2 linked regions of the Homo sapiens genome follow. The protein of the gene in region 2 purifies or fractionates together with the protein of the main gene of each other region. This does not show direct contact. Each region holds a gene or a part of one and is shown on either strand. Other genes may lie near its edges.

What was found.
Region 1: the proteins of CSDE1 (region 2) and YBX1 purify together in Homo sapiens (co-immunoprecipitation; 3 studies listed by BioGRID and IntAct, with this or other methods). This does not show direct contact.

What each region holds. Positions count from the first base shown.
Region 1 is NC_000001.11:42,684,828-42,689,699, reverse strand, and holds part of YBX1 (Y-box-binding protein 1), read right to left. Parts: intron 1-4,872. UniProt on the Homo sapiens protein: DNA- and RNA-binding protein involved in various processes, such as translational repression, RNA stabilization, mRNA splicing, DNA repair and transcription regulation.
Region 2 is NC_000001.11:114,729,787-114,734,658, reverse strand, and holds part of CSDE1 (cold shock domain-containing protein E1), read left to right. Parts: intron 1-135; coding exon 136-217; intron 218-541; coding exon 542-670; intron 671-801; coding exon 802-927; intron 928-1,842; coding exon 1,843-2,055; intron 2,056-4,010; coding exon 4,011-4,151; intron 4,152-4,236; coding exon 4,237-4,401; intron 4,402-4,872. UniProt on the Homo sapiens protein: RNA-binding protein involved in translationally coupled mRNA turnover.

The DNA.
Region 1 (4,872 bases), about 72 Mb from region 2:
AACTAGGAATTCTAGCATTTGCTTTTCATGGCCCAATCCATCCAAACTCCCGGACTCTACTCCAGCATGTTCACCATGTTTGACCCCCCTCCCACTCCTTTTAAAACATAACTATCTTTATCCTAGCTGTATATCTACATAAAAAATAAGCTAAATTTTAGAAAACTTTTTTGCCAATCCACAGTATTGCCTTAAATAAGACTTATTATACATAAATTTATCCGTAACTAAATGCTCTTATACTACTACTTTGTTGCAGATCACCAGACCACACTAGTCTAACACCTTAATTCACGTAACTGCATACACTAATTTACAATCCTGTGGTTATAAAAACTCCAGGATTTACCATCTATATGCTCCATAACCTAAAGCAACCAGATACCAATTTCCAAGCCTTGTAGATGACTGTAAGATAATAATGTCCACTTATCTTTGTATTTCTTCTCTATTAAACACCCTTCACACCCAACAGACTCACTTCTGTTTCCCACATATTGTCTATGATTCTGCCTTCGGACAAACTGTATGTTTCCAAGGGCTAAGACTGGAGGGTAGCAAACTCAGCAACTGCAGCCCCAGGACTAGGGGGACAGGAAGGTAATACAGTGTATCCTTGAATAACTCAGTATCTATGAGGGTGGATAGAAGTTTGAGGTGCCAACCTGCTGCACAGTTGAAATCTGCCTGTAACTTTTGACTCTTCCAAAATTTAATGGCTTACTCGTGACTGGAAAGCCTTACTGGTAACATAAATCCTTAACACATTTTCTGTCTTATATGTATTATATACTGTATTCTTGCAATAAAGCTACAGAAAAGAAAATGCTAAGAAAGTTGTAAGAGAAAATACATGTACAGTACTGCACTTATCGATACGGTAAGTGTACATCTGTCTGAAAGGTAATTCCAGCTGTAGACCTCATCTATAGCACATATCGAGCAACTGAACTTTTTCTTACAATGCCATGACTTTTCTCAGCATCACTAGCGCCACTTTGCATGGGTCCCATGGTGCTATTGAAGACTTACAGTATTGCACTAAACCACAATACCTGTGTACTACAAGTTCTTTTTACTGACATGCAATTTACTGGAGAGATAAACTGTTCATGTGAAGATGATTAGCGTCACATGGCATTTTAAGGGGCTCACTGCAGTAGCAATAGGCAGTGGCTACATATTATAATAGTACAATATTACTACAGTGAATGTCGTGCAGTTATGATTTAATGCTGCCTGAATCTTTATGTTTGTTTACATTTCTCAACTGCAAATGGCTGTATTAACTTTCTAATGCATTTGTGTACATTTTATGGTAGTAAATAATAAAACAGACTAGTATCTACAACATACTCAACTTTTCCTTATTTTGGGGGATACTTCTTGGCTATGTGGTTCATCTGAAGTTTTCAGGTTGTTGCAAATCTCCAAACATTTTTCCAATATATTTATCAAAAAAAATCTGTGTGTAAGTGGACTTGTGTGGTTCAAACTCACATTGTTCACGAGTCAAACTGGATACTAGTTCTCTATCCTAGATTTCAAGAGTAAAGGATTGTACTTTGGGAGGACACAGGGAGTGGGACCTACTAGTATTCTCCAAGTCACGTATCAGTGACTTGGTGAACACGGATGACTTCTTGCCAGCTTAAGATCAATGGTTAATATAACCAGCATACAAATCTCTCCTAATGTCTCCTGCATACATGTCATTGATGTTTGTCTTTAGGGTTCCAGTTTGGAACCTTCGACATCTCTCCCTTAGCAGCACCTGCAGAAAAGTCTTTAAACCTTCCCTAGTGCCAAAACATTTTGTCAGTTATGTTACGGTCTACCCATGACTTATGTGGCTTAGCAATGGATCTACTGTGATCAAGTTAAGATCAGTGTGACTTTAACAGCCCAAGAGATTTTTGGTAATGACATCCTTCCAAAGGTTTACACTTCTATTAAGAACCACACATTTGGGAGGCTGAAGCTGGAAGATCACTTGAGCCCAGGAGTGCAAGACCCATATGGGCAACACAGAGAGACTCCACTTCAAACAACCAACAACCACACAGTAAGTACTTTACACCGCCACCTTTAAAAAAGAAAAAAAAATCACCCTTTAGAGGCCGGGCGCAGTGGCTCACACCTGTAATCCCAGCACTTTGGGAGGCCTAGGCGGGTGGATCACCTGAGGTCAGGAGCTTGAGACCAGCCTGGCCAACATGGAGAAACCCTGTTTCCACTAAAAATACAAAATTAGCCTGTGTGGTGGCGGGCGCCTGTAATCCCAGCTACTCGGGAGGCTGAGGCAGGAGAATCGCTTGAACCTGGGAGGCGGAGTTGCAGTGAGCCAAGATCGTGCCATTGCACTCCAGCCTGGGTGACAAGAGTGAAACTCCATCTCAAGAAAAATCACCCTTTAAAAAGGCAATATTCAGTCTTACCTTGCAGGCCATACAAAAAAAAAAGATTAAGGGAGATAAGGTGCAACATTCTCTCCTTTAATTCTTCACCTCCCAGTATCAGGAATTAAGCAAGTCCTTTTATTTGTATAGCTGACCTACATGCTAAACTAGAACTTTTAACAATCCCAAACTTCACAAAGTAGATAGTGAAAGGCAGAAAACTTTTCAAATCCAGGACCTAGCAAGTCAGCAGACAAGAGCCCCAGTGACATACTTGGATCATTTAAGAGTCTTTCAACGGCTAAAAATAATCACCCTAAGAAATTATCTGTAACTATGTGGACAACAACCAAATTGAAAATGGCTAGGGTCTATTTCAGAGACAGCATAAGAGCAGTTGGTGAACACTAACTCCAGAGTCAAAAAACAGTTCCAATCCTGCCACTTATCACCTATGCTTATGGGGACAAGTAACAACTCCTTTGTGCCTCAGAATGACAGTACCTACGCCTCAAAGGTTTTTAAAGATTAAGTAAATTGGCTCATTTTAAGCACTTACTATAGACCCTAGTATAAATACTTGTTAGCTGTATCTATTTTCACCAACATGTGTTGGAAGTCACCTATCAGTTATGTACATATGGAATCCCCACAAGGGAGCCCCCACCCCAAAGGGAGACTAAACCTGATAGGCGTGACTAAAGAGAGATAGCCAAACCTTTCCCTGGCTTGGTTTATTACATCTTCCTAGACCATGGGTAATAAACTCAAATGCATACACAGAGGCCAGGCGTGAAGGCTGTCGTAAAAAAAGTATACCCCACCTAAATGTGGTGACAATATGGCCAGGTGGTTTTTACTTATGTGGAAATACAGGCCCCCAAAGCCAGCTAAAGTTCAGATCTTAAAAATATAATAATCTGGATTACTTGGTGTTATCTCCTGAATTATAAATGTTAGTAATTAATCCCAATTCCTTTAAAAAATACTGTACTGTCTAATCAAAGCATCTGGGAGTAGTTTTAGCCAGAAGGTCACAAATTTGTGACCTCTGCTCCAAATTCTTTCACCTCAAAACATTAAGAATTATTAATTTAAACATTTTAAGTACTCTGGAAACAGAAAAATATTCCTATTCTGGTCACTATAAACTGTTGCCAATTCATGGTAATCTTTGGTGAATATGGATCAATACTCAACCACTAACAAAATTCAACAGTAATCTGGGGGGAGCTAATAAACCCCTCTAGTCACATTCTCCGATTATGTTTTGTAGACACAGTTCACAAAAGAATAACTCAATGAATTTCTTAGAATTTCTAGATTACACAGTCTAACAAAATAAAGCCAAAACTTCTGCTATTTTTAAAAGCTCTATGCTCATGTTACTTAGCACCTTCTTCACAATATAACCATCAGGGAGAAGCCCTTTCATGAATTAATTCTAACAAGGTTGTAACAATTCATCAGGTGGTAATTCAGGCTGGAATAAACACATTTACAATGAAATTATGTCTTTAAAGGCAGAAAATTTACATACAATATTGTAATTATAAAAATTCCTTACAATCCTAGCATATATAATCCAGCGCATCCAAAAACCCCAATTAAAAGTCGTCACAATAGTCATCCCGAACACTGCACCCTCTCCTTTATACAGAAAACAGCACGTTATGTGTCAGTCTGTCTCCCTCCCTCATAAGAGACAGGTGCCTCCAGCCAAGTCTATTTGTTCCACTACACGAACTACATATAGAACCAACTGCTAGCTTCCAAAGTGATTTCTTTTATCACATACATTTTCCTTAATTAAAGCAAATCTTCCCTGTATTTAATTGGAGTCAGATTTTACAGCATCTTATTAAAAAAGTCCCAGAATCATTAAAACCAGTTCAGAAGCATAAAGAACATTTTAACCAGTTAATTTGACAAAATAATTGAGGTTAGGATAGTCCAAACAAAGGACCATCAAAAGCCAATTCATAACTTGCCCTGGAGGATGACCAATTGAGTTGATTCCAATTCAGAATAGAGATATTCAATGAACAGTATCTCATGGACTAAATACTTAAAAAATGTAAAGATATTACTCTTATTCTGGACAAAACTGTTGATTTCAAAAAATGTCATAACCTATGCCTACTTAAAAAAAATGCAGCGAAACAAGGCACATGCTAAAACTTCTTCAACACATACAAAACCTGCAATCTATCCGCTGAAAAGGCTGCAAATTTGCACACCAGAGTTACCATTACATTGGGTCAAGGGTTAAAAGCAGTGATTTTGAAGGTATGGCCCGAAGACCATTATCATTCCTGTTAAAAATGTACCCAGACCTAATGAATCCAAGGCTCAGAAGGAGGAACTCACCACTTACATCACACCCTCCCAAGGTAAGCACACTTAAATTTGAAAACCACTGGTTTAAGGGTTAGACTAGTAACGATAATCAGAGTAAGACAGAAATACAAAC
Region 2 (4,872 bases):
CCCTGTATTTATTCTTAGTGATGATAGAATTCTTAAAGCCCCAGGAAACTAGTTTCTTTAGACTCATATCTAAGCAGGCCAATACATTTTTAATCCCTGTTTCATTCCTCCTCCCTGCAATTATTTTTTTTCTAGTACTGGTGCTGTAAGTGCTCGCAACATTATGCTGTTGAAAAAGAAACAAGCCCGCTGTCAGGGAGTAGTTTGTGCCATGAAGGTAAGTGTTAAATTTGAGAAACTTGAGTTTTCTTTGGCCACTTGAAATGTTGTACTTCAAACTCCAGCCTTTGTTTTTTTTTTTCTTTTTTATCTTACCCTTTTAAAATATTTCACTGTTAACCTCAAAAGTAGTCTCTTAAAATTCCTTGGTTGCTAATACATTATCTTCTTTAAAATTGGCTGTTTAATTGATAATATTAGGTTGTACCAAATTATATTATTGTGACTACAGTATAATTTTACAAAAATTACTGGTTTTAAGTTGTAATCATAAATTTGTACAGAGTGGTAATAATGTTCTTGGTTTTTTATTTTGCTTCAGGAGGCATTTGGCTTTATTGAAAGAGGTGATGTTGTAAAAGAGATATTCTTTCACTATAGTGAATTTAAGGGTGACTTAGAAACCTTACAGCCTGGCGATGATGTGGAATTCACAATCAAGGACAGAAATGTAAGACAGTCAGTTAACTTGATCTTTGGCCTTTTAAGATCAGAGTTGGTTTATGTTTTTAAGAAACACTTAAAATTATGTGATTCTTCCTTCCTCTGTCCCCCCACCACCTCCAACCCCTTCTGATTTAGGGTAAAGAAGTTGCAACAGATGTCAGACTATTGCCTCAAGGAACAGTCATTTTTGAAGATATCAGCATTGAACATTTTGAAGGAACTGTAACCAAAGTTATCCCAAAAGTACCCAGTAAAAACCAGGTAAATAATCTTTTTCAGGAGAGTCCTATTTCGCCTCAGTAGTAATAGAATAATATGGTGTGGTATACTGAGATTTTATCTTATTCAGTTAATATAATGTGGTAGTGGAACAACTAAGGACCTCTTGTTACGTATATTTAAACTAAAAGAGAAACCAGATTTATATATTCATAAATATGGTGTTTTTTTTTTTTTTTTTCTTTTTTTGTGACAGAGTCTCGCTCTGTCGCCAGGCTGGAGTGCAGTGGCGCGATCTCGGCTCACTGCAACCTCCGCCTCCCGGGTTTAAGCGATTCTCCTGCCTCAGCCTCCCAAGTAGCTGGGACTACAAGGGCATGCCACCACACCCAGCTAATTTTTGTATTCTTAGTAAAGACGGGGTTTCACCCTGTTGGCAAGGATGGTCTCGATCTCTTGACCTTGCGATCTGTCCACCTTGGCCTCCCAAAGTGCTGGGATTACAAGTATGAGCCACCTCGCCCAGCCAAATATGTATTTTTTTTTACTGGGTGATGAAAAAAGGCCAAAGAAGAAAATGCTAATTAAATTGGAAAGCACCTGATTGGATTAGACTGCAGTTCAGGTGTACATTTGTTCCCTCCTCTGCCCCTGCCCTACCCCTCCAGTTTGTGGGGAAGGTGAGGACACAAGTGGTGTCATTCCTGGAAAAATTCCTTAAATAAAATCTTTTGGTACCAGAGTGCTGGGTCTTAATTGCATTGTTGTAATTTTATGGTTGACTCGTGTGACCATAGACCATGAAGCTTTCACATTGGACTTATGTTGTCAACACCTTTTTTCGCTTCAGGGAACTAAGTTAAAAATAACATGGGTTTACTATGTGTTCTTCTTGTTTGACTTAGAACTAGGAAGGATGAGAAATCTCCAGCTAAAATCGTTTTTCCTTCTCATCAGAATGACCCATTGCCAGGACGCATCAAAGTTGACTTTGTGATCCCTAAAGAACTTCCCTTTGGAGACAAAGATACGAAATCCAAGGTGACCCTGCTGGAAGGTGACCATGTTAGGTTTAATATTTCAACAGACCGACGTGACAAATTAGAGCGAGCAACCAATATAGAAGTTCTGTCAAATACATTTCAGTTCACTAATGAAGCCCGAGAAATGGTAAGTGTTGGATATTACTGGATATGTATCTAATATGCGAAAGCCAATGTTATATTCAAGTTTATACTACTAAATTAAAATTTTTCTTAAGTTAAATGACCCTAATGGGCATTTACCTTGTTAAGGTGATTAAGAATCATACACATTTGAGTCAGTCTGGGTTATCTCTGGCAGTTATCTTGGAAATATATGTGAAAAAATTTTTTGAATGGAAATCTGGACAGGATTACTAAGATATTTTTAGAGTCAGTGATTCTCAGGCCCTTAATATGAAGAGTAAGAAAATTCAAGTTCATCATTGTAGAAAGTAGATTTTCCCAAACTATTTCCTAAGACATTTAATTAGTGGTTTCTGTTTTTAGGAAACACAATTCTTCCTCCAGTGTGGTCCAGGGAAGCCAAAAGATTGAACACCCATGATCTAGACACTAGATCACACATAAAATACACTAACAGCAATGATAGCTGATGAGCTTTTTTAAAAAAAAAATCATAGGCACGGTGGCTCACACCTGTAATCCCAGCACTTTGGGAGGCTGAGGCGGGTGATCACTTGAGGTCAGGAGTTCAAGACCAGCCTGGCCAACATGGTAAAACCCCGTCTCTACTAAAAATAGAAAAATTAGCCAGGTGTGACGGTGGGCACCTGTAATCCTAACTACTCAGGAGGCTGAGACAGGAGAATCGCTTGAACCTAGGAGGCAGAGGTTGCAGTAAGCCAATACCATGCCGTTGCCCTGCAACCTGGGTGACAGAGGAAGACTGTCTCAAAAAAATAATTGCAAAAACATCTCATCATGTTTTAAGAAGGTTTAACAATTTGTTGTGTTGGGCCACATTCAGAGCTGTCCTAGGCCATGGTTTGGACAAGCTTGCAATTAAACCAGAGTCAAAAAGGTTTTGTTTTGGCAGAACTTCACAAATTGTTTTTTAAGAGTTTGTGTCTGGGAGTGGCATAAACCAACCAGATTTTTTCCCAAACATGTTTTATGAACTCATTTTCTCAGACATAATTTGCATTTAGTTACGTTTGGGATCATATCATCTACACTATAACTCAGTGTTGCCAGTGGAACTGGGTACATTGAATGAAAATTTAAGTTTCTTGAGTTTTTTTTAATCCTTTGCCTTTGAAGAACTGGTTGTATTTGACACAGTGTATTTAACTTTAAAAGTTTGTAAGTCTGAATGTGTGATTTTTTTTTTTTTTTTTACATTTTCAAAGGCAAGATCTGTTTTGCTTTACGGTATGGAAAATATAACTTGGCTACTGTCAGGACTTGGCAAGGATTAAATGTCAAAATATTGTTTAGGTCATATTTAAAACTTACAGAATCACTTCTGCAGTGAGCAGATATGTAGTATGTAATACAATAGCAGATTGATAATTTGTGTTCATTGTTTCATTAAACATGAGTATCTACCATGTTCCAGGTACTCTTGATACAGTAAGCCTTACAAAGCTGATAATTTAGTAAGAAGGAAAAAAAAAAAAGAGAAAAGATTGCATATATTTTATTCTTCAGATGTAAATTTTAACTCTTTCCTGGGCCTAAACTCATGCAATTTTTGAGGTAGAGACTGGAGAAGTGCCTTTGTCTACTTTGGAATTATGGTCTGTAAATTAGTGAAGTTTCTGGAGATTATATTGTCATTAGACTTGGGCTTTTATGAAATACATTGTGTTCACGTGTTTACGTTCACATGTGGTAATTTTTTCTAGTGCATATTTGCCAGGAAGTAGCAATTGGAGAGTCTTAGAAAATTGCTCAGGTTAAGTTACTTTGTTGAAAGCAATGAGTTTGTACTTAAGTGAGAACAGTTCAAATGTGGATACAGTATTTGTGTCACATCAGAGAAAATTCCTGATGAATTTAACTTGATGGTGGTTGTAAAGTTGAATGTTGCCTTCTTGACAAGTTTCACAGCCAGTGAAAATATTATTTGGGTTTCAGGGTGTGATTGCTGCCATGAGAGATGGTTTTGGTTTCATCAAGTGTGTGGATCGTGATGTTCGTATGTTCTTCCACTTCAGTGAAATTCTGGATGGGAACCAGCTCCATATTGCAGATGAAGTAGAGTTTACTGTGGTTCCTGTGAGTTGTTTCTGAGAAAAGTTGGGAGGTGTTTCTTGATGCTTTCTTTTTCAATTGAAAGTTAATTTTGTTTTATCATTTTTAGGATATGCTCTCTGCTCAAAGAAATCATGCTATTAGGATTAAAAAACTTCCCAAGGGCACGGTTTCATTTCATTCCCATTCAGATCACCGTTTTCTGGGCACGGTAGAAAAAGAAGCCACTTTTTCCAATCCTAAAACCACTAGCCCAAATAAAGGCAAAGAGAAGGTAGGTTTTGCATAATCCAAATGATTTTTGTAGCTGTTTATTTCTCTTCTGCTTTAACAGCACATAGTAATAGAGTACATATAATCAGCGGAAGTTTGTCTCTTTCAGAATTTCTGTCATATTAACAGTGAACTAAACAAAGTAAGGTTTCTTAACCTTGGGATTATTGACATTTTGGGATGAATGATTCTTTACTGTGGGGGATGGGATGTTTAGCAGCATTTCTGGCCTCTACCCACTGGAAGTTAGTATTCTGACCCCTTTTCCCTGCCTCCCATTGTGACAGCCAAAAATGTGTCCAGACATTGCCAAATGTCCCCTGGGAGGCAAACTCATTCCAAGTAGAGAACTAGTTATATAAAATGATAGTACTGTCTTCCAGGCAATTTAAAACTTTCAAAGTTGGGTGTATCCTCAGTTCACACATTTAAATTTCATTTATTGAAAAATCCACTAAATAGGAAATAGAAA